4 linked regions of the Homo sapiens genome follow. The protein of the gene in region 3 interacts with the protein of the main gene of each other region in a pairwise test. Each region holds a gene or a part of one and is shown on either strand. Other genes may lie near its edges.

Region 1 (4,741 bases), on a different chromosome or scaffold from region 3:
AGTGACAGAAGGCCCGAGGAGGCCGACTGGGCTGCTGGGGCAGGGCCCAGGGAGGTGGCAGGGAAGGGTGCCTGGCTGGGCTTTGGGGCTGGTGGGATAGGAGGGTGCCCCTGGGAACACAGTGCCCCAGTGGTGCGGGCCAGGTCTGGCGCCAGGGGCAGGCAGCTAGGCAGGGAGGGGGCTGGGAAAGAACTTGGACTTCTAAAGGCGGAGGGTCTCCCTGGGCACCCTGCAGGCAGGCAGACCACGGTGTGGGGGGTGCCCCACAAGGCCCAGCCCTGGGCAAGGAAGCTTTGGAAGCAGCAAGGTGGGGGTCAGGCTACAGGTGCCCCACCTCCCCAGAGCCCTGCAGTCACGTGAGGCCCCTGTGCAGTAGAGAGCCTTTCTCCAGCCCATGCTGGCTGGGGCCGGGGCTGCCGCATCTGCCTGGAGCCTGGGCAGCACCTCCGGGACTGACCTTCGGCAGTGGCTGGGGGACTGCTTTCAGTGCCTGCTGTTCGTGACTCAGAAACAGAAGAAAAACACTGAGAAAAAGCATTAAAAATAAGCCAAAATAAGACTATTGGTAAACACCTAAATTTTTGTAAGAAAATTTAAAAATTAAAGCAGCAAAGGAACTTTTTGCTTTCTGCCACTCAGGTCTGGCACAAGTGGCTGGCTTCTCCCTTGTGTCGGGCCTCTGCGCGTCTGGGGCAGGGCCCTGGGTGGAGGTGGTCCCAGGTGCCCATCTGCTGTGTCCTGCAGAGGCTCTGTTTCTGGTCCCTGGGTGGCCCCAAACTTGTCCACTTGGGCTCACTGGTCTGTCTATCCATAGGAGTGGGCTGGCTGGGGGCTAGCCAGGCCTTGAGCCCAGGAGTAGAATCTTGGCTAGGGGCTGGTCTCGGTGCAGGTGAACTCAGCTAGCACAGGGTTGATTCCTGTCCTGGGCCTGGGAACTGGGCCCTTGGAGCCTCTGAGGTGGCTAGCAGTCTGACCCCTTGGAGGAGATGGGGACAGCTCTAGGTGTAGGTGGGCAGAAACCAGCACTGCATCCTCACTCATGGGCCAGGGAGGCAACTACAGGGATGCGGGAGCTGGTCTGAGCCATTGCCTCTTCTGTAAGCAAGGCCCAGTGGGGAGTAGGGAAGGAGATGCTTCCACTCTGTGCCACATGGGGCCCAGAGGGGCTGGTGCTGCTGCGGGGTCCACCTGTCCCCAGCGCCTGCTTGGTCAGAAAGGTGTGAATGCTGGCTGACTCCTCTTCGTTTCCCAGGCCGGCAGTCGTCCCCATGGGGCTAACAGGTGCCCCTGGCCTAGCTGCAGGAGGGCTGACCTCTGCACCACTGTGGCTGGGAGGCCAGTGGGCCAGGCGTGCCACCCAGAACCCAGCCAGCTAGGGGCCCCGCCCTTAGCGTTAGCGTCCGTCAAGGGGAGCTTTGAATGTTTGGTGCCCAAGTCAAGGGCAGCAGGGGAATGGCAGTTGAGAAGGATGTACTAAGTCGAGTTATATCTAAATATTTAGATTCTTAATTTCTATTTTATATTTTTAAAACATGATATTAGTATATAAGATAATATAGCTAGCCAGTGTTAGTAAAGAAGTCATGATTGAGTCTTAAAAAAGAACAATCCAGTGTTGCAGTTCAGAGAGGTTAGCATGTCAGGGCGCAGGCCTCGGCCGAGGTGTGCTTTGCATTTAGGACACAGCCCGGAGCCGCAGAAGGTCAGCAGGAGCACGTCTGGCACCTTCAGTACCAGGCTGGGTGAGAGAGCCCGAGAGGGGGGCCGGGGGGGCAGTCAGGGCCCTGCTTCGCTGCCTGGGCCCTTGTAGATGGCCTTCTCCAGGCCGTCCACCACCTCCCTGTATTCCAGGAACGATTGGTAGTGTGTGCACTCAAAGCAGCTGCTCCCGCGCACGTGTGCTAGGAAGTCTGGCGCACCTGGGCAGATCACGTTGTCAGCCAGTAGCACTGTCCCCTTCCGCAGCAGGCCACATTCCTGCAAACAGACCGGGGGGTGGGGGAGGTGAGGGTCAGAGGTGCCCAGAGAACCTGCCCCAAACCAGGATGGGTGCTCCTCACTAGGCCACGGCACCACGCCTGTGCCTAGCCCCTGGGGCCAGGTTTCCACTTTCTGCCCAGCGTGACTCCTGCAGGAAAGGACTGTACAAGACTTGGGTGCCACCTTCAGAACATGGGCCCCGTGAGGACAGGGACCTTTCTCTCATCAACTCCTGTATCCATCTCAGGAGTATCCATCCCTTAGAACAGCATGTGGCACACAGTAGGTGCTCAATAAATGCTAGCTGGGTGAGTGGAAACAATGGGGCCCTCAACACCCAGTGCCAGGAACTCAGGCCTATGAGGGAGAGGCACCCAAGGAGAGGGGTTGCTGGTATGGTCCCTGGAGACAATATTGGCCTGACCAGGGTGACCCTGCAGGGCTGAGGTGGGGCAGACCTCCCATCAACAAGCCTGCCCCTTGGGGTCAGTTCTGGACATCCCCAAGCTCCTGCATTTGCAGACCCCCCATCTTCACCAGTGCCTGGGCCCTGGGAGGACACAGAGTTCCTCTGCCTGGGTTCTGTGCAGAAGGAAGGAGTTGTTACTGGACACGCAGCCATAGGGCATGGCCCGTGGGGTCCACTATCGGGAGAAACCTCATAGGATGCTTGCCTATCTATGCTATCAGAAAAGGGTTTGCTTACATCACATAAACAAGAAACCTTGAGAGGAAGTGTTTGCCTATGGGGAGGAAGGACCTACCAGGGCAAGGGACACCCCAGTCACCTTGTCTTGGAAATTTGACTTAGTCACCAAACAAAAGTTAACAAGCAATCTCAAACATCTAAAGTATAATAAAATCAATTTGCAGGCAGGTGCCTTGAAACACTGGTATCCGACCCCACATGCCTCTGGGATGGGCCTGGAGAGTCCCACAGGGCTTGCAGCTGTCCTGGTGGTGGGTGGCGGTCGTTTCCAGCCTGTATGCTGCAGAGAAAGCAGGGGGCTTTCATGTGACAGTATGGACACCACACGGCTGCAAGGTCAGTGAGGTCAGGGGACAGCCCCAAGGTCCGGAGTTGAGCAGGAAGTACCACCATGAATCATGATGTGTTTTCATTTAGAAAAAAAAAAAAATGTCCTAGCAATGTCAGCTGAAAAGACGTAGAACAAAGCGCCACCCGGGAGGAGGACAATGGCCTAGGCCTTGAGCAGGGCGGCTGCCTTCCAGTCTGGGCCAGGGAATGCATGAGTGAGGGGCCTGGGCTCCTGGACTTCTCGGGTTGCGCCAGGGGACTCAGGAGCCCAATCTGGTCATCAGGGATACAGAAGACGTCAGCGGACTGAAAGACACCAGACCACTGCACCTGCACGAGTTAAACAGGAAAGAAGGAGGGAAGGGCAGAAAGGAGCATGGGTCACCTTTGGAGGCTGCCAGGGGCCCACTCCTTTACGAAACTGGTCAAGAGGGGAAAGAAGGCAGCACCTGTCCTGCCTGTCGCCCGACACTGCAAGCCTCCTACCAGCTACTCAGACCACCTGGAGAACTGGCTAAACATGCATCAGCGTCTGAGCAGGACTGAAAATCTAATGCCGTGGAGAAGCGACAGTGTCAGAGGAGCAGGTGACACTATGCTGAGGTGGTTTTCATCTGGCCCACCCTCCTTAGACTCTCCTCCCTTCAAGAGTTGGAGCCTCACAGAGGTTGCAGGGAGCCAAGATCGCGCCACTGCACTCCAGCCTGGGCGACAGAGCGAGAGACTGTCTCGAGAAACAACAACAAAAAGTTGGAGCCTCAGACCAAGCACACACCTGTACTCCCAGCACTTTGGGAGGTTGAGGCAAGAGGATCGCTTGAGGCCAGGAGTTTGAGACCAGTCTGGGCAACATAGGGAGACCCCATTTCTACAAAAAATTTTTAAATTAGCCAGGTGTAGTGGTGCATGCCTTTAGTCCTAGCTACTCAGGAGGCTGAGGTGGGAGGATCACTGGAGCTCAGGAGTTTGAGGCTACAGTGAGCTATGATGTCATCACTGCACTCCAGCCTGGGCACAGAGCAAGACTCTGTCTTTTTCTTTTTTTTTTTTTTTTTTTAAGGGGGAACTCATTCCTCTTCCTTTGGGCATGGGCTGGACTTGGTGACTACAGCAGCCCGGTGGAGAGGCCTCCTCAAAGCAGCCCTTGATTTTGAATTGCAACCTGCTCCTGAGCCCCTCACCCCTCGTGCCTCCGATGCTCACAGAACCCACTGAGGGGATGGCTAGACCCTCACAAGAGCCAGGTTGTCCCCTAACCCTCCACAAGGGGGCACAGGGCCCCAGCCCTGAGTGTGCAGATGTGCGTTTAACAAGGACACCCATTCCCAATTCATGACTTCCCACTTCATGACTTTGCTTCTTTTGAGATAATTACCAGCTTTGCGCAAGCAGCACTGAGAAAACTATTAGTTTCCTAGTTACTAAACTGCAATGTTTGCTACTTTTCTATGAAGGCAGGCCCCTGTAATTAGCACCCACATCACAGCTGCTGAAACTCGGCCGCAGTAACGCAGGCCCAGCTGTGGGTGTCTTTCCTGCCCAAGTGAAGCCCATCTGGCTGAGTGCCAGCTCTCTGCCATCAATACCCAATTGCCAGCATCATGCTCCTTTGTCAGGGGTGAGCCCCCCTCCAGCTACCCTGTCTTGGCCTGTAGGTCTCCCTCCCACCCTCCCAATGCCCACCCCCTTGGCCACTACAGGTCCTCCCTCTCCACGGCCAGG
Region 2 (7,810 bases), about 140 Mb from region 3:
CCCCACTTCAGGTATGAAGCCACCAAGGCTAGTCCCTGACATGTATCAGGGAGTGGGTAGAGTGGATGAAGACTCCGATTTACAGCTCCCAGTGTTCTTGGCCTAGGCCTAAGGTAGGACCCAGGTGTTCCAGGTGCCAGAGCTCAGACCATTAGGGAAGTTCTGTCCCTGTAGCGTATGCTGGAAAGTGGCACAGTCTCTTTCCGCAAAGCAGACATAGGTGTGGGTGTGAGAGGCGGGAGGAGGAGGGGAGACGAGGGAAACTGGGGCCCCACTCACATGATGTTCACAGCCACAGCGCAGCCCGACGTGATCAGCATGGTCCCCCCGTCAATTTCATAGTCCCCAGAGATCAGCCGCTCCACAGCCAGGTACACCAGTACCCCCGTCACGACCCAGATGGACAGTACAGAGACCAGGGCTCCCAAGATCTCTGAGGAAGAACCCAACCCCAACACCCACCTTGGCATGGGCCTGGAGCTAAGGAGTCTTCCCCCTTCCTTCAGGATCCTCCCCACCCACCTCCCACACAAAGTCAGGGCCTGGGTCCCACTGGGCTCTGCTGAAGGTATGGCCGGTATGGCTGCCCCTTACCCCACCCCTCATATATCTAGGAATGTAAGAGCTAGAAGGAACTAATAAGTCATCATCTGAGTCCACCTTTTTGGTTGTACATGTAAAGAAGCTGACTTATTAAAGTATGTGCCTTTTGTTCAGCTAGTAAACTGAGGCTTCTGGGGAAGACAGGCTGGGCCATCTCCCACAAAGAGGAAGGTGACGATGCAGTCCAGGGTGAACGGAAGAGAGGTTAAAGCCTATATCTTCCAGCAGCCTTTGCTGGCCTTCCCCTCCCCCCAGAGCTGATCCACAGAGTTATGTGCAGTGTTAATGCCATTGTCATTTGTTCTTGAAGCTTGGCTACTGCACTTCTTAGGAAGGTCAACTTTGCTTCCCTGCAGACTGAGAGCTCCTGGATGACTGGGACCAGGGCTCCCCCATCAGACTAGGATTTCCCAGAGGACAGAGGCCATGGTTGACATCCTCTTCCCCCATCCAGATCACCCTCCTGGCCTCACTCAGGGGAGGAAGGGGGGATCCACCCATTACAGCCACCTAAGAACCCCTGTTCTAACCCACCCTCTCTCTCAACCCCATCTCCAGCCAAACCGCGATCCTCACCAGCTCTCTGCCAGCCAAAGTTCATGGTCTTGGTGGCTGGCCGGGAGGACATCCAGAGGGAGAAGAGGCTGATGAGCATGCTGGCAAAGTCAGTGAGCAGGTGTGCTGCGTCAGTCATGACAGCCAAGCTGTGTGCCAGGTACCCACCTGCAGGGTGGAGGGTCCTTATCAGCTCCCCCAGAGAGCTGGCTCCCAAGACTGTGTGTGCAGCAGGGAGACCACAGGCTCTGGAAGAGGACATTCTGGGCTCAAGATCTCTCTACCCATGAGCTGTACCACCGTGACAAGTGACCTACTCTCTCTGAGCCTCAACTTCCACTCTCTGTGAAATGGGCCACCAATATCTACTTAGAGGGTGAATGTGCACATCAAGTTCAAATAGGGACTGGAAAACATAGCAGATACTCAGTAAATGCTCTTCCCTTCTAGGAATTCAGGCCTTCCCTTAGCTACGAGTTGTGCGTGATCTTTGGCAAGTTACTTCACCTGAACATGCCTCAGTTTCATCATCTGTAAAGTAAGGAGAATAACGTCACCCATGTGAGAACACAGGTTGTTGTTAGACCTGCATCAGATAATGTGTATATAAAGGCTTACTGTAGTGTGTGTTCAGTAATTGGGGCTTTTAGTGTCAGTATTGCTGGGAACATCCAGTCTATCCATGCACCAACTTCATTTAATTAGCCCAAAAGTGCTTACCAACGACTTCTCCGATCATGAACAACAGGCAGATGGCAGAGGCTACATACAGCTGGCGCTGGGCCTTCCCCTTCTTGGGGTCACAGTGACTGTCAGGACCCTTCTGAGCATGGCAGTGATGGTTGCTCTGGGCAGCCAGCTCAATGGCCTGCAAGTCCAGGCCAGGTCGGGGCAGAGGAATCCAGCCAGCCCCTTCCTGCCACAGAGATCCCGTGTATGACCTGGCCAGAGGGGAAGAGAGGGAACGCTCAGCTCTGAGATGAGGTAAGGAGGGCCGACTCTAGTCCCATTTCTCTGTGAGGCCTTGTGTCCACTGGGAAAAATAGCTAAGGACGCTCCGAGCTCGACAAACCAGAGGTGAGAAGCCTGTATTCAGACGGGGATGATAGGGGAATGGGAGTCCTGGGGCCCGGGGCCCTTCAGAGGCCAGAGGAGGTGAAGACCCTGGGAACCGGCCAAGGGGCGTGCTGTCCAGTGGAGCGCGGGGAAGGAACAGAGCGCAGGCTCTGGGAGAACAGCAGGCCCCCTCCAGCGCACTTGGGACACAGGGCCTCCCCGGGGCGGGGCTGCCTGGGGCAAAGTGCTGGGCGGGGCGGGACTCCAGGCATGGGAACCGCCAATCCCCCGGCCCCAGGCCCCCCGCGGGCAGGGGTCAGAATCTGGGCTGCGCCCCAAGGGAGAGACGGTCCTTGGGCCACAGCCCATTATCTTCGTTCCCTCACCTCACCCCACCCCTCCTGCATGGTCCCAGCTCAAGCCGCAGCCAAAACCAACCACTGCTAGGATGGCAAATGCGGAGGTGCGTCGGCTGCCGCCAAAATTCCCGCCCGTCCCCAGGCTCTCGCCTTACCGGATTGCCGGCCTGGCGTCCAACAGATGCTGCTTCTCCTTGGCCTCCATGCAGTCCCGCGCCGAGTCCCGGCAGCCGCGCAGCCGCCCCGCCGAGTGCGCCCTGAAAGTTGCGCGCGGGACTCCGGGTGGCGCTCACCCACCTGCCCCGAGGGCCCCGCGAGGTGCGCTCACTCCGGCCCGGCTCCTGCGGCCCCTGAGCTCCCCCGGCTCCCGCTGCGGCTGCAGCTCCGGCTCTGGCTCCGCGTGCCAAGCGCTCCCGTGTCTCGGGTCAGCCGCTGCGCCCCGCGGCCGCCGGCTTTATCCGGCCCTCGCCAACCCGTGTGAAGCTGCCGTCGGCGCGTCGTGTGCAAAAGCCCGCGGGGAAGGGGGGGCGGTCGCCGGCTGCAAAAGGCCCGGCTGTGGCCCCGCACACCTGTGCCTGCGCCCATGGGGCCCGCGGAGCCCACCTGCCGGCCGCGAGAAGTTTGCCAGCCTTCGCCCGGCGCGGCGCCGGGTGTTGCTGAGTGAGGACGGGGTGACGCCTGCGCCCCCTCTCCCGCGCGGGGTGCGCCGCCTCGCCGCCGAAAAGTTCTCGACTTTAGTTTGTAGAAATCCGCTTTGGTGGTCCCGACGGCAGGAATGTGGCTCCTTGCCTCGGAAGAGGGTCTCCAGAGGCTACTGGGGCCGCGTCTGCCCCCTCCGACTGGCGGCTGCCCTGGGCTTGATCATGTTCCCCTCTCAGGCCGGAGACCCCCCGAGGTCGGCTTGCGTTCCTGTCCTCCTGCTAGGAGGGTCCTGGGGTGGGGTGGGCTGCGCCGCCCTCAGGCTGGGGCAGTGTCTCTCCCTAGGACCGGCTGGGACTGATCGACCCATCCTCGCCACTGAAGCAGCGCCAGCTCCTCCTCTCCTGCGCGCAGGAGAATCTGGAGTGGCCGGCTTTGTCTCCACCCGCACAGAGAACAGTGTCATCGGCAGTCACCATCGGAGCAGAGACGACCACTGCCACTGCTGCCACCCCTTCTCCCCTCCCCCGCAGCGGCTCCTGGGAGCCCCAGGAAGCCTGACAAGCAAGCCTGGGAGATGCAGGCCGGAGGTGCCACCGTGTTGGTACCGCTGGGAGAAGCCCTGTCCTTCCTGGCCAGCTTGGTGCCCCACCCACTTGAAGCAGCCTCCTTCCCTGGCGGTTCTTGGGGATTGGGGAGCCTGTGGCCCCCACGCTGGCCTCTGACAGGTGCCCTCTGTGTAGAAAGAAGCTGCTGGAGACCTCCCTGTCTGGTCAATTCGTCTCCCCAGCACCCTTTGTCGCTAGGACCATAGGCTTGGTGGGTATGGCCTTTCACAGAGCCAAGAGTCAGAGGTGCAGGCCTCTTGCCCACACCACTGGGGACAGGAAGGGGCTCTTTCAGTCTCTCATCTTGTAGGAGACGGGGTGCCAGGAGTGAGGATGTGAGGTGCACCCGCTCTGCTTGGGTCCTCACTGAGTGCCTCTCTGCTTCTCTGGACTCTGGTTTTCTTCTGGAAAACCTCAGACACCCTGGTTTTCTCCAGGTCTGTCTACTCTGAGCACCAGCAGGCTCAGCATTACCTGGAGAAGGTGTTACAACGCAGGTTACAGGTCCCTGCATCAGACCAACCGAACCAGAATCTCTGGGTGTGGAGCCTGAATATTTCCAGGATTCAGTAGGTCTGGGGCAGGGCCTGGGAATCTGTATTTATAAAATTCTCTGGTGCTATTGTGGCATCATTGTTCATTTTTATGTATAGTGGTTTTTTTGTTTGTTTGTTTTTGAGACAGAGTTTCATTTCTGTCTCTGTCGCCCAGGCTCGACTGCAATCTCAGCTCACTGCAATCTCTGCTTCCCGGATTCAAGTGATTCTCCTGCCTCAGCTTCCTGAGTAGCTGGGATTACAGGTGCCCACGACCATGCCAAGCTAATTTTTGTATTTTTAGTACAGACAGGGTTTCACCATGTTGGCCAGGCTGGTCCTGAGGTTATGATTTTTTTCAAAGAACACCTTTATCTAAAGTATTTAGGGATAAAATGTCATCTGGGTTTTGCCTTAAAATAATCCCAGTGGGGAGAGTACGGTACTGGTATAGAAGAAATAAATATGTCACCAGCTGTTGAAACTGAGTGATGGGTAAATGGGGTACACTATAACTATTCCCTCTACTTTTCAGTATTTAAAAAATGTTGGCTGGGTGCGGCGGCTCACGCCTATAATCCCAGCACTTTGGGAGGCTGAGGCAGGCGGATCACCTGAGGTCAAGAGTTCGAGACCAGCCTGGTCAACATGGCAAAACCTCGTCTCTACTAAAAATAAGAAAATTAGCCAGGCATGGTGGCAGGCGCCTGTAATCCCAGCTACTCAGAATTCTGAGGCAGGAGAATCACTTGAACCCGGGAGGTAGAGGTTGCAGTGAGCCGAGATCATGCCATTGCACTCCAGCGTGGGCAATCAAGAGTGAAACTCTGTCTAAAAAAAAAAAAAAAAAAAGTTTCAGAATTAAAGACTTGGGGAAAAATAAACCTTTCCTGGCAATTCTGATGTAGCAGCCCATGGAGCTGTATTCAAGATTCATTGAAAGAACCCCCTTGAAGCCAGCTGTCCTCTCTTGCAGCATGATTTTAAAGGAAGCATGTTGATCAAGAACCCTTCATACCATCTTAAGGGTTCTAGTTTGCAAGTACAGGAAGAGCCCTTCCTATGGCAAAGGAAAGATCCCCTTAGTTGCAATTAACAGGTATCTTCCTGGAATTTAATCTTTAACTGATTACCCAAAGTCTCAACTGCTCTCTCTTCTCTTCCATAAGTGACAAGATACGGGGCTGAAATGCTTGCTGCTTACATGATCAGTAGCCTGGAGAAGTAACAGAACATACACACGTTATAATACTGATTCTTGTGATTTCAAGGTGATGAAAACCTCTCTCTTTCTGGCCTCAAATTTCTCCTTCTGGACTCAAATCCCTTCAGTTTTCTATGGGAGGATACTTTAGGAGACCAAACCATAAAGAAAAACAAGTATGTGATTGTCAAAAAAACAAAAAAATTGACCGCTCCTCTTTCCGCTGCCCCAATCAGAAAGAGGAGCTGTGATGTGGTAGAGGGGCACATGGAGGGCTTCTGAGGGCTGGCAATGTTCTTTTTTTTTTTTCACCTGAGTGGTAGTAACATAAGGTTTCATTTTACAATAGGTTATTAAACTCTACGATGAGTTTTGTGCACTTTTAAGGGTGTGTGTGTGTGTATTACACCGTGTTTTAAAAACTAAAACAAAATGCTTCAGAACTTGAGAAAGGACTGGAAATGAGAGCAAAATCTGATTCTTTGAAATTCAAAGTTAGGAACTGAGTTAGCCTTAGAAAACCTACCAAACTCCCAGAAGTGAAAATGGGCAGAGGTTGTGAGGGTTTTTGAGCACTGTCCTAAAGCAAGTTCCACATAACTCTAGTTCCGGAGGATGTCATATGAATAAGTTGGGAAATTCAGTCCACACACACAAAATGAAAGACTTAGGGTCAGGCAGCATTCCAAGCACCATGAACTTGATGGTCCTCATCTAAAGTTAATTCGCTTTCTTTACGGTGGGACGACTCGGACCCCTTAATTTGCTACTGTGATCTGAATGTCTAAAAGGGGGAACAGGCTCTGCAATGCTCCTCAAAGTTGTAAGTCTCTGGTGTATCAGCCCCGGTGAATGCGCTGCCTCGGATTCGCTCAGCCTTGCCTCTCTCCAGGCCCTTGGCTTCTTGCTCATGGAGATCCTGGATGCTACTGGGCCACAGTCATGAATTCATCCCCTACTGCCGGTGGCTGACTTGGCCTTTCCTGGCGTGAGTCTGGGCACCAGCCTGGCCCCATTGTGTTCACTGAGGTGGAGACAGCAGCTGCCCCACCCTTGTCCAACCCAACTGGACCATGGAGGCCCTGGCACCTCCCACCATCTCCAGACTCAGCTGAAGTACCACCCAATGGGGCAGGTGACCTTGCTGCCCCTGCACCTGCACCACCTGAAGTCAAGGTGGAATGAACAGTATGGGAGGCGGGAGACAGGAAGGAGCCAGCAGACACATTTCTTTTTTTTTTTCTTCTCTAGATGAAGGACTTTGAATCATGTTCTGTTCTTTATGGCCTGCTGGAAACATCTCACATGACTAAGCAGCCAGCCCAGTCTTTGGTGAAGCTGTGGCCAGCTCAGCCACGTGACACCTTGTACTTGCTTCCCTCCTTGCCTGCCTCGCTTCCATTTTCCTTCCCTCTGTTGGCCTTGGGAGTGTGCCTCATAGGGTCTCAGAAAACAATACCCCGAAATGAAGGCCTCCCTCGGAAGCAAACATTTCTCTCTGACCTTCTCCTGCCCTCCTGTCTCTGGTCCCTTATTCTCCCCCAAGGCTAGCTATAAAAACTACAATCCCTCTTCACCAAAAGCCTGCCCTAAAACCTAAAAATATTACTCTAACTTTCCTCTTTCTTTCTGTGTAAAATTGGCCATAGGAAATTATTTGACCTTTGTCTGATTGTAGGTCAGAAGACCCCCATCCAGAGAGAGTCCTGCGCCATATGAGGAAGGAAGGAATGCTGCGCAGAGAGGCCGAAAAGAATCTTGACAGACAGGCCTCGCTGGGTTCCCCACTCAGTCTATCAGCATTAGATCAGGCTCTTTTGTCCAACCGTATTTCTACACGGCCATCCATACTTTGTTGAACTGAAGCCTAAAAATGGACAGTTTCTCCTGTATCTTTGGGTGTTCATTCTGAAGGTTCTTGTATCTCATAAAACCATGGTCAAATAAATTTGTGTATTTGTTTGCCTTTTCTCCTATTAATCTGCCTCTTTTTTTTTTTTTTTTTTTTTTGAGACGGAGTTTCACTCTTGTTGCCCAGGCTGGAGTGCAGTGGTGCGATCTTGGCTCACTACAACCTCCGCCTCCTGGGTTCAAGCAATTCTCATGCCTCAGCCTCCCAAGTAGCTAGGATTGCAGGCATGCGCCACCACGCCCAACTAATTTTGTATTTTTAGTAGAGACGGGGCTTCACCATGTTGGTCGGGCTGGTCTGGAACTCCTGACCTCAGATGATCTGCCCTCCTTGTCCTC
Region 3 (7,037 bases):
CTGAGGTCACATAGCTAATAGACATCAGAGCCTCCATCTGAACTTGAATTTCCAGCTCCAAAGGCATGCTTTTTCCCTTGGGCTGCACGGCCTTTGCAAGATGCAAGCCCAGATAGCAGCGAAAGACAGTAATCACCTTACCCAGCCACTGTGCAGTGATTCTGTAATAGACACCCTAATCACTGCGCAATCTTCTCCTCAGGCCGCATAGCCGGAAATGCTCTCTTTCCAGGATAGATCCTGGCCTGGGCTCAAGGCTCAGCTCAGAGCAGCCCCAGGCTCACCCCTGCTTAGGAAGACCAAGGAGGCAGCACCTCCAGTTAGCATGTGGCAGTTCAGCTGCTGGGGCCCAAGGGTGACTCAGGGCGGTCCCTGTGGAGGAGCCACCTTCCCAGGCGATGTGTGAGGCACATAGCCAGAGTCATTTCCCAACGTCCTGCCAGGCGGCATCAGTGTGGCCACCCGTCCCTTACACATGTTGCCCTCATGGGAACATCCTATTTCCCTTGGATAAAATGTCGGGGTTGGGAGGGTGGTGGTTGACTTTCAGCCCTGTGGTCTGAGTCCTCCCACCCTTTCCAGTTAAAGGGCCAGTCCTTAGCTGGGCCTACAGTCCTTAGCTCTGCATGCCCCGGCCCCGTCCACCCGGCCTGCTTCCTTCTCTCCTCCTCTCTCCATCCTGCACTCTCTCTCCTGCCAGGTGGAGCTCCATGCAGCCTCCCTGCTGAGCTGGTGCTCACTCACAACTCCATACCTCGCCAGGCTAGCTTTCTGCCTGGGGTGGTCCTGGGTCAGTGCCTCCAACGCTGTGAGACCTGGGTCTGGAGCATCACCTCCAACAGGAGCCTGCTGTGACCCTCTGTGCTGGACCAGAAGCCTGCCAGTTTGAATGGATAGCCCTCCTGGCCCACCTCCTACCTAGCAGCACTGAGTGATTCGGACCCGCCCCCTTGGCTGTGGAACAAGAAGGCTTACACAGAATTGCTGGGCGTGTGCACTGGGGATTGTAGAGTCAGATCGCCTGGCTTTCTGTCTTTCTCCCATGGGTCTGGGGTGTGTTATTTAGCCTTTCCCTGCTTTAGTTTCCTCATCTGTAAAATGAAGATAATGACATATCCGCTGCTCACAGTTGCTGTGAGGACTCAATGTGGCCCTTACCACTCCAGGCCCTGATACTTGGCTCAGGTGTCTGCCTCCCTCACATCTTCTCAACTGCATTTCCAGGAGGTAGCGCGGTGCTTGGCACATCGCAAGCCTTTGGTAAATGTCCATTGGTTGAATGAAGCCCGTAGTCCTTCAACATCATTCTGGTTCTTAATGATCCCTCTGAAAATTGATGTAAATGGATGATTCTGCTGTCAGCAGCAGCAGAATTGATCTGGCCCAATGCATAATCCCTCAGGACCTCTGTAGGTATCTTAAGACTGGCCACACCCCCAAATATGAGTGGGCTGTGGTGTGATGACTTGGAAACAGGACTGTTCGAGCTCTGTGTCTTGCCAGTGTTGAGCTCTTCTCTGTTAAAGAGCTCTGCAGAGCTGTGGAACACGATGCAGTCTATATAACTTGTCTGGGGAGACTTGGGAGAAGGTGCTGCTTTTAGAAACATCCAACCCAGTCATGGGAGCCCCTGACGCAGGAAGGCAGCGGTTTTCTCTCTCCGCTGACTTCTCTCTCTTGCCTCCCTCCATCCCTTTTCTAGCTACTATGCTGTCCTGTACCCCATGGTGTACCCCATGAAGATCACAGGGAACCGGGCTGTGATGGCACTTGTCTACATCTGGCTTCACTCGCTCATCGGCTGCCTGCCACCCCTGTTTGGTTGGTCATCCGTGGAGTTTGACGAGTTCAAATGGATGTGTGTGGCTGCTTGGCACCGGGAGCCTGGCTACACGGCCTTCTGGCAGATCTGGTGTGCCCTCTTCCCCTTTCTGGTCATGCTGGTGTGCTATGGCTTCATCTTCCGCGTGGCCAGGGTCAAGGCACGCAAGGTGCACTGTGGCACAGTCGTCATCGTGGAGGAGGATGCTCAGAGGACCGGGAGGAAGAACTCCAGCACCTCCACCTCCTCTTCAGGCAGCAGGAGGAATGCCTTTCAGGGTGTGGTCTACTCGGCCAACCAGTGCAAAGCCCTCATCACCATCCTGGTGGTCCTCGGTGCCTTCATGGTCACCTGGGGCCCCTACATGGTTGTCATCGCCTCTGAGGCCCTCTGGGGGAAAAGCTCCGTCTCCCCGAGCCTGGAGACTTGGGCCACATGGCTGTCCTTTGCCAGCGCTGTCTGCCACCCCCTGATCTATGGACTCTGGAACAAGACAGTTCGCAAAGAACTACTGGGCATGTGCTTTGGGGACCGGTATTATCGGGAACCATTTGTGCAACGACAGAGGACTTCCAGGCTCTTCAGCATTTCCAACAGGATCACAGGTAACTTGGGCATTGTTAGGATAGCCCCTCCGAGGCAGATGAAATCTGTGGTCCTCTCAGCCACTCTGGCCTGTTTGTGGGTGAGTTCTCAGGCTGACTGGCGGTAAGGCTCAAAGCACAGATTTCCTTTCGGAAGAAACATTCCAGAGGCTCCGCTGTGATTGCCAGGGAGCTTCCTGTCACTCAGTAGCTCACGGCCATGCTGACAAGGCCAGCAGAGCTCCCTGGTGCCCTGGTATGTGTCCCAAAAGAATGGGACAGGGGACACCACGGTCCAGAAATCTGCTTTCTGAAACCCCAGCCCTGGCCCTCTGGCCTCAGAGTGTGTATAGTTAGTTCTCTCTCTCTTTTTTTTTTTTTTTTTTTTTTTTTTTGAGACAGGGTCTTGCTCTGTTGTCCAGCTTGGAGTGCAGTGGCACAATCTCCATTCACTGCAGCCTCTGCCTCCCTGATTCAAGTGATCCTCGTGCCTCAGCCTCCCAAGTAGCTGGGATTATAGGCACGCACCACCACACCCAACTACTTTTTATATTTTTAGTAGAGACGGGTTTCACCATATTGGCTAGGCTGGTCTCAAACTCCTGACCTCAAGTGATCCGCCCACCTCAGCCACCCAAAGTGCTGGGATTACAAGCGTGAGCCACCATGCCAGGCCTGGAGTATATTCTTTACTAGAGGAAAAAGAATCCAAGCATTGGACCAGGCCACCTTCTCCTGGCACAGCCACATCCACATCCTTTCCTTCAGTGTTTCCTCTTGTCAGCACCCCCTCCCCACCTCAGCTGCTGTCTTCCTCCTCAACCATCCTCCTCCTCCTCACAGATCAGTGATCTCCTCAGATGGTCCCAGACAATCCGGGGGTGTCCATGCCAAACCTCAGCCTTCCATCGAAGCATCATGGCCTTGTACGTGTGAGGCTGCTCCTTCCTCTGATGACTGATCCGGTGTGCACAGGTTTCCGGACACAATCCCACCACCTTTGATGGGACCCAGTGGAATTACTCTAGTTAGGGGTTAGATTTTTTGTTAAAACTTTTTATTTTGAAATAATTTTAGATTTACAGAAGACTTGGAAAAACAATACAGAGAATTCCCACACACCCAGCTTCCTCTAGGGTTACTGTCTTGAACAACCACAGCTCTAAAACGTTAACACTGGGGCAGTGCCATTAACTACAACTTGATTCAGATCTCACCCGTTTTTCATTAATGTCCTTTGTTTGTCCAAAGATCCAGCTCAGGATCCCATATTGTCTTAGTCAATCTTTGACAATCCTTTACTCTTCCCTTGTCTTTTATGACATTGACAGCTTTGTAGAGTACTTACCAGGTATTTTGTAGACTGCCCCTTAATTTGTGTTCATCTGATGCTTTCTCAAGATTAGAATGAGGTTATCCATTTTTGGCAAAAATGCCACAGGGGCGATGTGCCCTTCCTGTACATCATAGCAGGGGGCACATATGCCAATATGCCTTATTGCTAGTTGTGTTGCTCTTGATCTCTCGGTTAAGGTGGTGCCTGTCAGCTTTCTCCACAGTAAAGCTGCTGATTTTCCCATTGTAATTAATAAATACAACTGAGGAGATACTTTGAGATGATGCAAATACCCTGTTTCCTCTTTGGCCCTTTCCCACTGACTCAGGACACATTTGTGGATCTTGCCTCTAGCATTTTTACTGTGTAGTTTTGAGGTCAAGTAGCTGGATTTTTAGGGCCAAGGTGAAAGGAGACCATCACCTGGCCAAGCCACTGGGAGAGATTTGGAGAACATTCAGCTTGGACTACAGTCCTAATCTCTTGCCAGATGACTTCGGGCAACTCTTCAAACCACTCTAGTTAATTTCTCATCTTCATGAAATAGGTCTTTCTTCCACTTTTCTTCTCAAGAGGGTGAAAGAAATGACTCTAATTATGCACACCCAGTGGCAATGATGACAGGAGATCCTTTCCATGTGGCGATGAGACACAATGGCATCACTGATTTATTTCACGGGCTGATGGAGTTTTATTTCCAAGAGAGGAAGGAAGTCTGGGACTTTTAACCATAGGAGAAAACATTTCTCTGTATCTCAGTATTTTAACCACTGAAATGCTCACCCCTGCCAGTTGCAAGCCCACATTTTCACATATGACCTGTGATCCAGGAGTCCATTCAATGTTGGGCTTCATTTCACTGATTAATGTATTAGTCCAGATTTTGTAAACTCACTTGTCTTCTAGGCAAAAAAAAATAGATGTTTTCTAGATCAATGAAGTTAAAATGAAGAAGGAAAAAAAATGAGGACAGAAAATGGAGCAGGAAAGGGTTCGTAGAACAAAAAGAAACACCTGCTTTTGAGGCCAAGATTTTCCATGCAAGTCACTTGCAGGTGTCCTAGAAGAGCTGGTGAAGCTGTGAGCACAGGCGGAAAACACCAGCTGTGGTTGGTTTGGCACATCCCAGGCAGCTGGTGGTCTCATCTTCATTTAGGGAAAGCAGGCTTGTGGGATGCCTTTGGGCTGAAGAGCTTATGGAATGGGTTCCAAGTTATTGGTCTTTCCGAGGAATGGGAGCTGGGGTGGGGGTGGGGGATGGTTCTTCTTGTTCTTCCCTGAAGGTCCTGATCCCAGGAGGAGGCAGCAGCATCAGTAAGAGTCTGGGAACCAAAGCAGAATGTGGCGCCCCAGCCCAGCCGCTCACCCTGCGCTGTCCATGGCTTTCTGACTGCAGGAGAGAGCCCTGGCCTCTGCCTTGTGTCCCTGGTCCCTCTGTCTGAGCCAGGGCTGACCAGACCCTCTGTGGGCAAGGCCTTGATCTGCAGCAGATTCTGAAACCCTAATCACTTCCCCTGCCACTGGCTCACCTTAGTGTTAACTAGAGGTATGAAGGATGATCTGATCTGTCTCAGAGCCAGCAAGAAGCAACTTGGAGGCTCTTTCTTGATTCTGTTCCTCTCAATTTGTATGGGCACTTGGAAAGGTTTAACCAAAGTAAATGGAATAAGCTTTCCTAAAAGCAGTGCATATGAGCAAAGGCAGAAGCAGAATCCCACACATTTCTGGAGCTTCCCAGCTGACTTGGATGTCAGGAGTCTCCTGGGCAGTTGACAGTGTGTCCTTTATATCTAGCAGATTTCAGCCATAATCAGTGGTTCTGCTTCTCTCATTCTGTTTGTCCCAAAGTGAGGAAGTACAAAATCTTAGGCTTTCCATGGGTGCCAAATGTCGCTGGGCCACCAAATACCTTCTGCTTGTAAGGTCTCCTTAGCCAATTCCCACGGGGAAGGTCACTTAGGAATTTAGATCTCTGGACTTCCTGGAGGTTGCCACGCAGCACCACCATGTGGCAGATAGGTCAGCCCTGCATGGACATTGCTAAATGCTACCAGGTGGTCTTAGGATGGTAAAGCACCAATACAAAGCTGACTGGTGGCTACTGGCAATGGGAGCCAAGAAGAGGCTTCAGGAGAAAGTGCAGGCAGCCCCTCCACCTGCCCTTCCGCTGGCCGACCCAGAACCTTCACTCCAGCCAGGGCTGGAGAGCCCGAGCACCACCCCTCTCCCCAGCCAGGGAGGGTGGCCCAGGCAGTATCAGGGGGCACCCCCTCCAAACGCCGCCCTTACGAGACCCTTGAAGCTCCTGGGCATAGAGCCTTTCCCGTTATCTCCTGCGAAGGACACTGACTCACGTTTGTCCAGGGGAAAACACCTCGCTCCAGGTTCTTCCTTGAGAAGGCCTAGCTTGAGGGCGGGGAGGGTGACCCCAGAGCCTTTGGATTTACTCCCTTGCCTTCCTAAGTTCCTTTGCTTGGGGGCATCTAGAGGTCTTGTAGTTAGCTCAAAGTACCTGCAAATTTATCTCAGAATCACACCCCTGTTCTTTCAGCTTCTCAGAGCACTGTGACTGTTGCTCACCGCATGCCTCTGGAGAGCCACAAACCTGATTCCCCGAGCCTGTGCCTTTGTGCTTTTTTCTTGAGGGGTTGGATTGTGCTCAGCCCAGTAAATACATTGTTTCATGTGAACAATCTCAGGGTAATTGTCTCCACCCTCTGCTGGTAAATGCTGCATAAACACAGAGGAGAGGGATGCCACCTGGCTGCCCCGTTTCCAGACCTTTTAGCTGAGCCGCATTGGCCTGGCTCAGACCATTCCTCCCACTGGTGCAGACCGACATGTTCCTGGCTTTCACTGCAGCCTCAGAGATGGTGTCCAAAACCCACTGCGGCTTCAGCCATCCCAGCTGGCAGGAGATGCCCCCACAGGCTCTGCTCCCTAAGCCAGGCCTCCTGCTGAACACAGTCATGTTCTCAGGCCGAGACCTTGGGAGGATGGGCATGTGCAGGGGAAAGGATTGGGGCCTTTCTGGTCCCAGCTCCCTACAGTAACCCCCAGTCAAGAGGAAGTCCCCTTGCAAAAGCAGGATTCCCAAAAGCAGCGAGAGGGAAGTTCTGAGAGAAGCCTGCTGTGACCACCCCGCCTTCCCACACCATGTCCTCCTTGGCTCCAGGGAAGAAAGGAGAAAGTGCATTCTATTGCCTTGTAACCTCTGAAGAATTAGGGTAGAATGAAGGAACAGGTCTCCTCCTATCTGTGAGTGTATCATAAAATACAAGAGTGTCCTTTATGG
Region 4 (4,581 bases), on a different chromosome or scaffold from region 3:
TTACAGATAAGGAAACTGAGTCCCAAAGATATCGTGTGACTTGCCTAAGGTCACACAGTAGTAAGTTAATTCTTCCTTGATTGTGAGAATTGAGGCTTTGGGCAGTACTGAAGAGATTATGATTATCATTACTGTTATTCTTTTCTTCTTCCAGTATATTTGCTGGGAAAATGCTTATTTGGTCTTTTTCTTGATGGGGTGAAAAAACTATGTCTAAAGTAAAAGAATACAATTTGTATTTGGCTCCTGTTGTATTTAACAGTCGTTTTAGGATGCAGGGCTTGTCATAGTGCCTATTTTAAGGCTCAAATACAGAGACTAGGCTGAAATCTCACTATTCTCTCATCAGAATAACTGGAATGCGCCCAGATACTTGGCCATTTCTAACTCTGCATTCTTTGAGCTTCCCAGGCCTTCTCTTGTGCATGTTGTATTATCTTTTCTGTCCACAAAGATTTTGAAAAATCAGCAGAGTACAAGTAGCCCCTGAAATAAAGGCATCATTCAAGGAACAAACAAGTAGAAGGAGGGATCCAATTAAAATGATGAAAATCTTTAATTTTTATTTAGTTATACTTGTACGGACACGTGTATATACAAATACAGATCGTATGGGTTTGTTTGTGTGTGGGTTTTTTTTTTTTACATTTTCTTTTACGTTTATATAATGTCAGCATTTCAAAACAGCACTCGATGAGTAAGTGCAAAGGAACTGCAAAGCAGGGCAGTACAAGCACAGGACCACACGGAGCTGGACTTCACACCCAGACGCACACACAATGAGTGGCTTCAATGGGGTGTCAAGAGTAAGCATGGAGAGCGGATTTTGACTCATGGGTAACCTCCGACATGCCAGCATCTATTAAACTGTACAGACAATGGGAGCAAGCCCATTGTAGGGAGATTTGTCTCACATCCTAGCAGCCCTGGGGCCAATGCATGGGAAAAACTCAGTGATGCCAAACCAGAGACAGACCTGCCCATTCACAGCTCTGAGGGGAAATAAAACGTGGGAGGAAGGCAAGAGACACACAAAAAATAAACATACTAAGTAAAAGGGGGGTGGTGTAGGCAAACGGGGGTGTTGGTGGAGGCGGTTTTCAAAAGAAAAGTCAGTGACCACAACTCTGAGAGCAATGAATGGAAAGGAGGAGTTGAAAACTGTTTTTCTAATTATTTGAAAATAATACAAATGGCTGCTGCCGTTGCTAAGGCACCGGAGAAAAACAGAGTCCCTGAAAATCCACAGGTACTGTGTGACTCTTCCTTTCACAACGACACAGAGAGGGAAACAGCCCCATTTAAGCTTCCTACACTGATTGGTTTGCAACCATTTCCATGAGTGAGCTGCACATGATATTGATAAAGACTCTTCCTGGGAAAAAATAAAACAGTCCATGAAAACAATCACAAACAGAAAACCAAACCAAACCAAAGTACAGAACTGTTTCTAAATTCCCTATCCTTTTCAAACCAACATGCTGGTGGAGAAGGGAGGGTGGGCCACAGGGCTCCAACATCAGACCTTGAAAACACCGAGGACAAAATATCGATCAAAAAAGTCATGTTGTTCCAGGTCCCAAGATGATGGAGTCATAAGATTGGGTGGGCAATGACCACACATGAGTCCTGTATGGAGCAGTGTCTCAGCCACTTGTGACTCTTTTTTTCAGCCATGGTACACATTGGATGTTTCAAAGCCTCAATGCATGTTTTGTATCCTGAAAGTCTATTGTTCTCACTTACAAAAGACATAAGAATCAAATTAATACTTTATTATCAAACACTATGTACAACAGAGGTTGCTAATAATACAGAATTTAAAGAACGCAGTTTTTTTTTTTTTTTTAATGTTTTACTTTTCTTTCCTCTGCCACCCAAGAAAGTACAGTACAAAACAATAGTCTAAACTAACACGAACTGTTACCTGGTCTATTAAAGGATACACGGTATCCACTAAACAGACAGATCCTTATTTCCCTGCTTGATGTTGCAAAGCCCTTGGCAACCAGGGGCAAAGGTCACTGGGGTTTGACTAACTGGGGCTGAGTGGCAGCTATGACTGTCCTTCAGATTTTTGAGTTGTTTTTGAAATTAAAAGCTTCTAAAAGTTGCATCAACATCCTCCTAAGCCCCCAGAGGATTGTAACACCACCACAAAAGGCCACCAACACTTTTTAAACAAAGTGAAAACTGTCTGACACCAATCATCTTGAAAACTCCATGGCAAGTGCATTAGCTATGATTTCATCACTTACAGGTAGAGAAGCTTACTGTCTACTGGTGTGGACACTCTTGCTATTTTCTTTATACTTAATTTGCAGTGGCAGAATGGTGAAGTAAAGGGGTCTAATTTCACTGTGAAAAAATGAAAGACAATGGCAGAGAGGGCCATGAGTAATTATTTCACCATTTGTTAGAGACAAATGCTAGGAAAACCACAGAAGTCACCATTTCTAAAATGCATTTAGCACTGCTAACATAGTTATGACTAACTGGAATCATGACAGGATCATTTGATTTCCTTGTGGTTATAGAACATGCTGTATTATTTTGGTTCTATTGATCCATTTTAGAAGGTATCTTTCTCCCCCTACCCAAATCCCACTGGACCAACAAGCCTGTAACTATTAATTAAAAAAAAAAAAGTATTTCTGCATATGACTGAGAGTACTGCATATATAAATAGCTAAAGGAAAAAGGAATTGAATGCCGTGAACTTTTGTTTTGGTGAAATGGTGGCTGCCTTCTGTGATAAGACTCTGCCACTCCAGAGGAGTTCCTTATGTCAGAGGGGAATAGGATTGATTGTATCTGTGAGGCTGGCAACCCCACACACATGGTTCCATGTGAGAACAGACTCGGCAGTGACATCCACTCCAAATGGATCAGGTAAGCCCAGATTACATTTCAACATGTGTACAACTCTCCAGGGCACAATACGTTTACAGCTGCCTTTCCTTCACATACTTTTCTAATTCAGAACTACTCACAATTCTAAGCAAATTCCCATTCACGAAGTCTGTCCATAATGCGACCTTCTCTTTTTTTAACATATACATCTTAAAAAACAAATATATAAAAAATTCTTATTTTGCTGGAATGCTTTCAATTTTTCACATTTTACATGATCATCACATTTATTTCTTATATTGAAAGGCATGGTTTCTGTTGACATGTCGTGCAAAGCCAAAAAAAAAAAAAAAAAAAGGGCTGGATTGCTTTTCAATTGGTCTAACACTTTTCCTTGTCTAGGCTTTGGATTTTAAAGTTCATGACAGCCCCACCACCAGTAGAAACCCCAAGGCTTGCATTTCCTGGTAATCGACTGGAAACGTCCCCTGTTGGCCATGCTAAGATTCCTTCAACAGGGTCATCCTGCATTTATTCTCCTTCTGCCCCACCCCCACAATGAAACAAGATAGCCCCCATATTTCTAAATGTATCAAGGGATACCACTTTTTCTCACAAGTTTAAATAGGACAAGCATATATACTCACTCTCAGCATAAAGTATATCTAAATAATGTATTTTCTATTCTAGTGGATTTTTAAAAAAATATTTTGTTAAAGTCTTTGGGACTCCATCTTGTTTATCTCCCACAGATAAACACATGTTCCCCCTACGCTTTAGGCTGTGTCAGAAAGGGAAAGAATATAAAATCAACACTTGAATTTTTTTACTCCAAACTTTGGAATTTTATTTCCAAATTTCCCTTTAGCCCTCCCAAGTAGTGCTGACTGACTCTCCTGGTGACAGGGGTTTGTGTCCGAGCCCCTGCGGTCAAGGAGTGTGGAGCAAAACGTGGGTACTAGGGTGGGAGGCGGGGAAAGGCCACAGCACACTGGCGCTCCAGCAAAGCCAAATCATGTCTCCTCTGGCCACTGCGGTCCTCTCCTTGGTACATGTCATCCCCCAGAGGAGTATCCAAAGCTATTCCACTATGCACTCATCAACCCTGGCTTGTCAGCCTTGGGGAAGGTCACTTTATTCATAAAAATGCCTCTTTGAGTTTCTTAAAAAAAAAAAAAAAAAAAAAAAAAAAAAAAAAAAAAGTTGTAGCACCATGGTGATCTGTATTCAAAGAAAAAATATCTGGTGTGCACTGCCCAGTCACCAAAAAAATTAGAGGCACTCACACATACACACCCCCAGCAAACCTGTAGTTTTCTCTGTTTTCACACCTGCTCTGTATTAGCATTCCACACCCAACCTGCCTCCTAGAAAAAAAAAAAAGGCTTCTTTTAGAGAGCACAAGTTTTGCTGTCAAGAATGCTTTAAGACAGTCATATTAAAAAAAAAAACCAGTGTCTCAACCTTTTAGAAGCCTGTTCATTTACATACTCCTATAGGAAATGGTGTAATATCGTATCTATTCTTAATACCTCCCCTCCGGACCTGACATGGTGACATGATGCCCTGCGCGATCATCTTACAGTTCTGAATGAGAAGGCATAAATATTGCATAGGAGAGCAAAACCCTCCCAGCCCTAGCCAGCGCTGGCTGCATCTGCCACTATTCTTCCTTGTCCATAGCCCGCTGACACAGTGCGCTAACGGAGGTGAGTTCTTAGAGGAGAA

Evidence for each region.
Region 1: the proteins of GPR161 (region 3) and COMT interact in binary tests that used the Homo sapiens proteins (3 or more experiments, as listed by UniProt).
Region 2: the proteins of GPR161 (region 3) and SLC30A2 interact in binary tests that used the Homo sapiens proteins (3 or more experiments, as listed by UniProt).
Region 4: the proteins of GPR161 (region 3) and EFNA5 interact in binary tests that used the Homo sapiens proteins (3 or more experiments, as listed by UniProt).

Annotation. Positions count from the first base shown.
Region 1 is NC_000022.11:19,965,772-19,970,512, reverse strand, and holds the end of COMT (catechol O-methyltransferase), read right to left. Parts: exon of another isoform or gene 3,538-4,741; coding exon of another isoform or gene 3,304-3,537; intron 1,978-3,303; coding exon 1,777-1,977; 3' UTR 538-1,776; downstream 1-537. Other genes in the region: splicing regulator ARVCF, read left to right, coding at 3,304-3,537. UniProt on the Homo sapiens protein: Catalyzes the O-methylation, and thereby the inactivation, of catecholamine neurotransmitters and catechol hormones. Also shortens the biological half-lives of certain neuroactive drugs, like L-DOPA, alpha-methyl DOPA and isoproterenol.
Region 2 is NC_000001.11:26,043,119-26,050,928, forward strand, and holds the start of SLC30A2 (proton-coupled zinc antiporter SLC30A2), read right to left. Parts: upstream 3,001-7,810; 5' UTR 2,779-3,000; coding exon 2,729-2,778; intron 2,100-2,728; coding exon 1,879-2,099; intron 1,327-1,878; coding exon 1,180-1,326; intron 434-1,179; coding exon 280-433; intron 1-279.
Region 3 is NC_000001.11:168,091,898-168,098,934, reverse strand, and holds part of GPR161 (G-protein coupled receptor 161), read left to right. Parts: intron 1-1,702; coding exon 1,703-2,427; intron 2,428-7,037. UniProt on the Homo sapiens protein: Key negative regulator of Shh signaling, which promotes the processing of GLI3 into GLI3R during neural tube development.
Region 4 is NC_000005.10:107,376,357-107,380,937, forward strand, and holds the end of EFNA5 (ephrin-A5 isoform 1 precursor), read right to left. Parts: 3' UTR 538-4,581; downstream 1-537. UniProt on the Homo sapiens protein: Cell surface GPI-bound ligand for Eph receptors, a family of receptor tyrosine kinases which are crucial for migration, repulsion and adhesion during neuronal, vascular and epithelial development.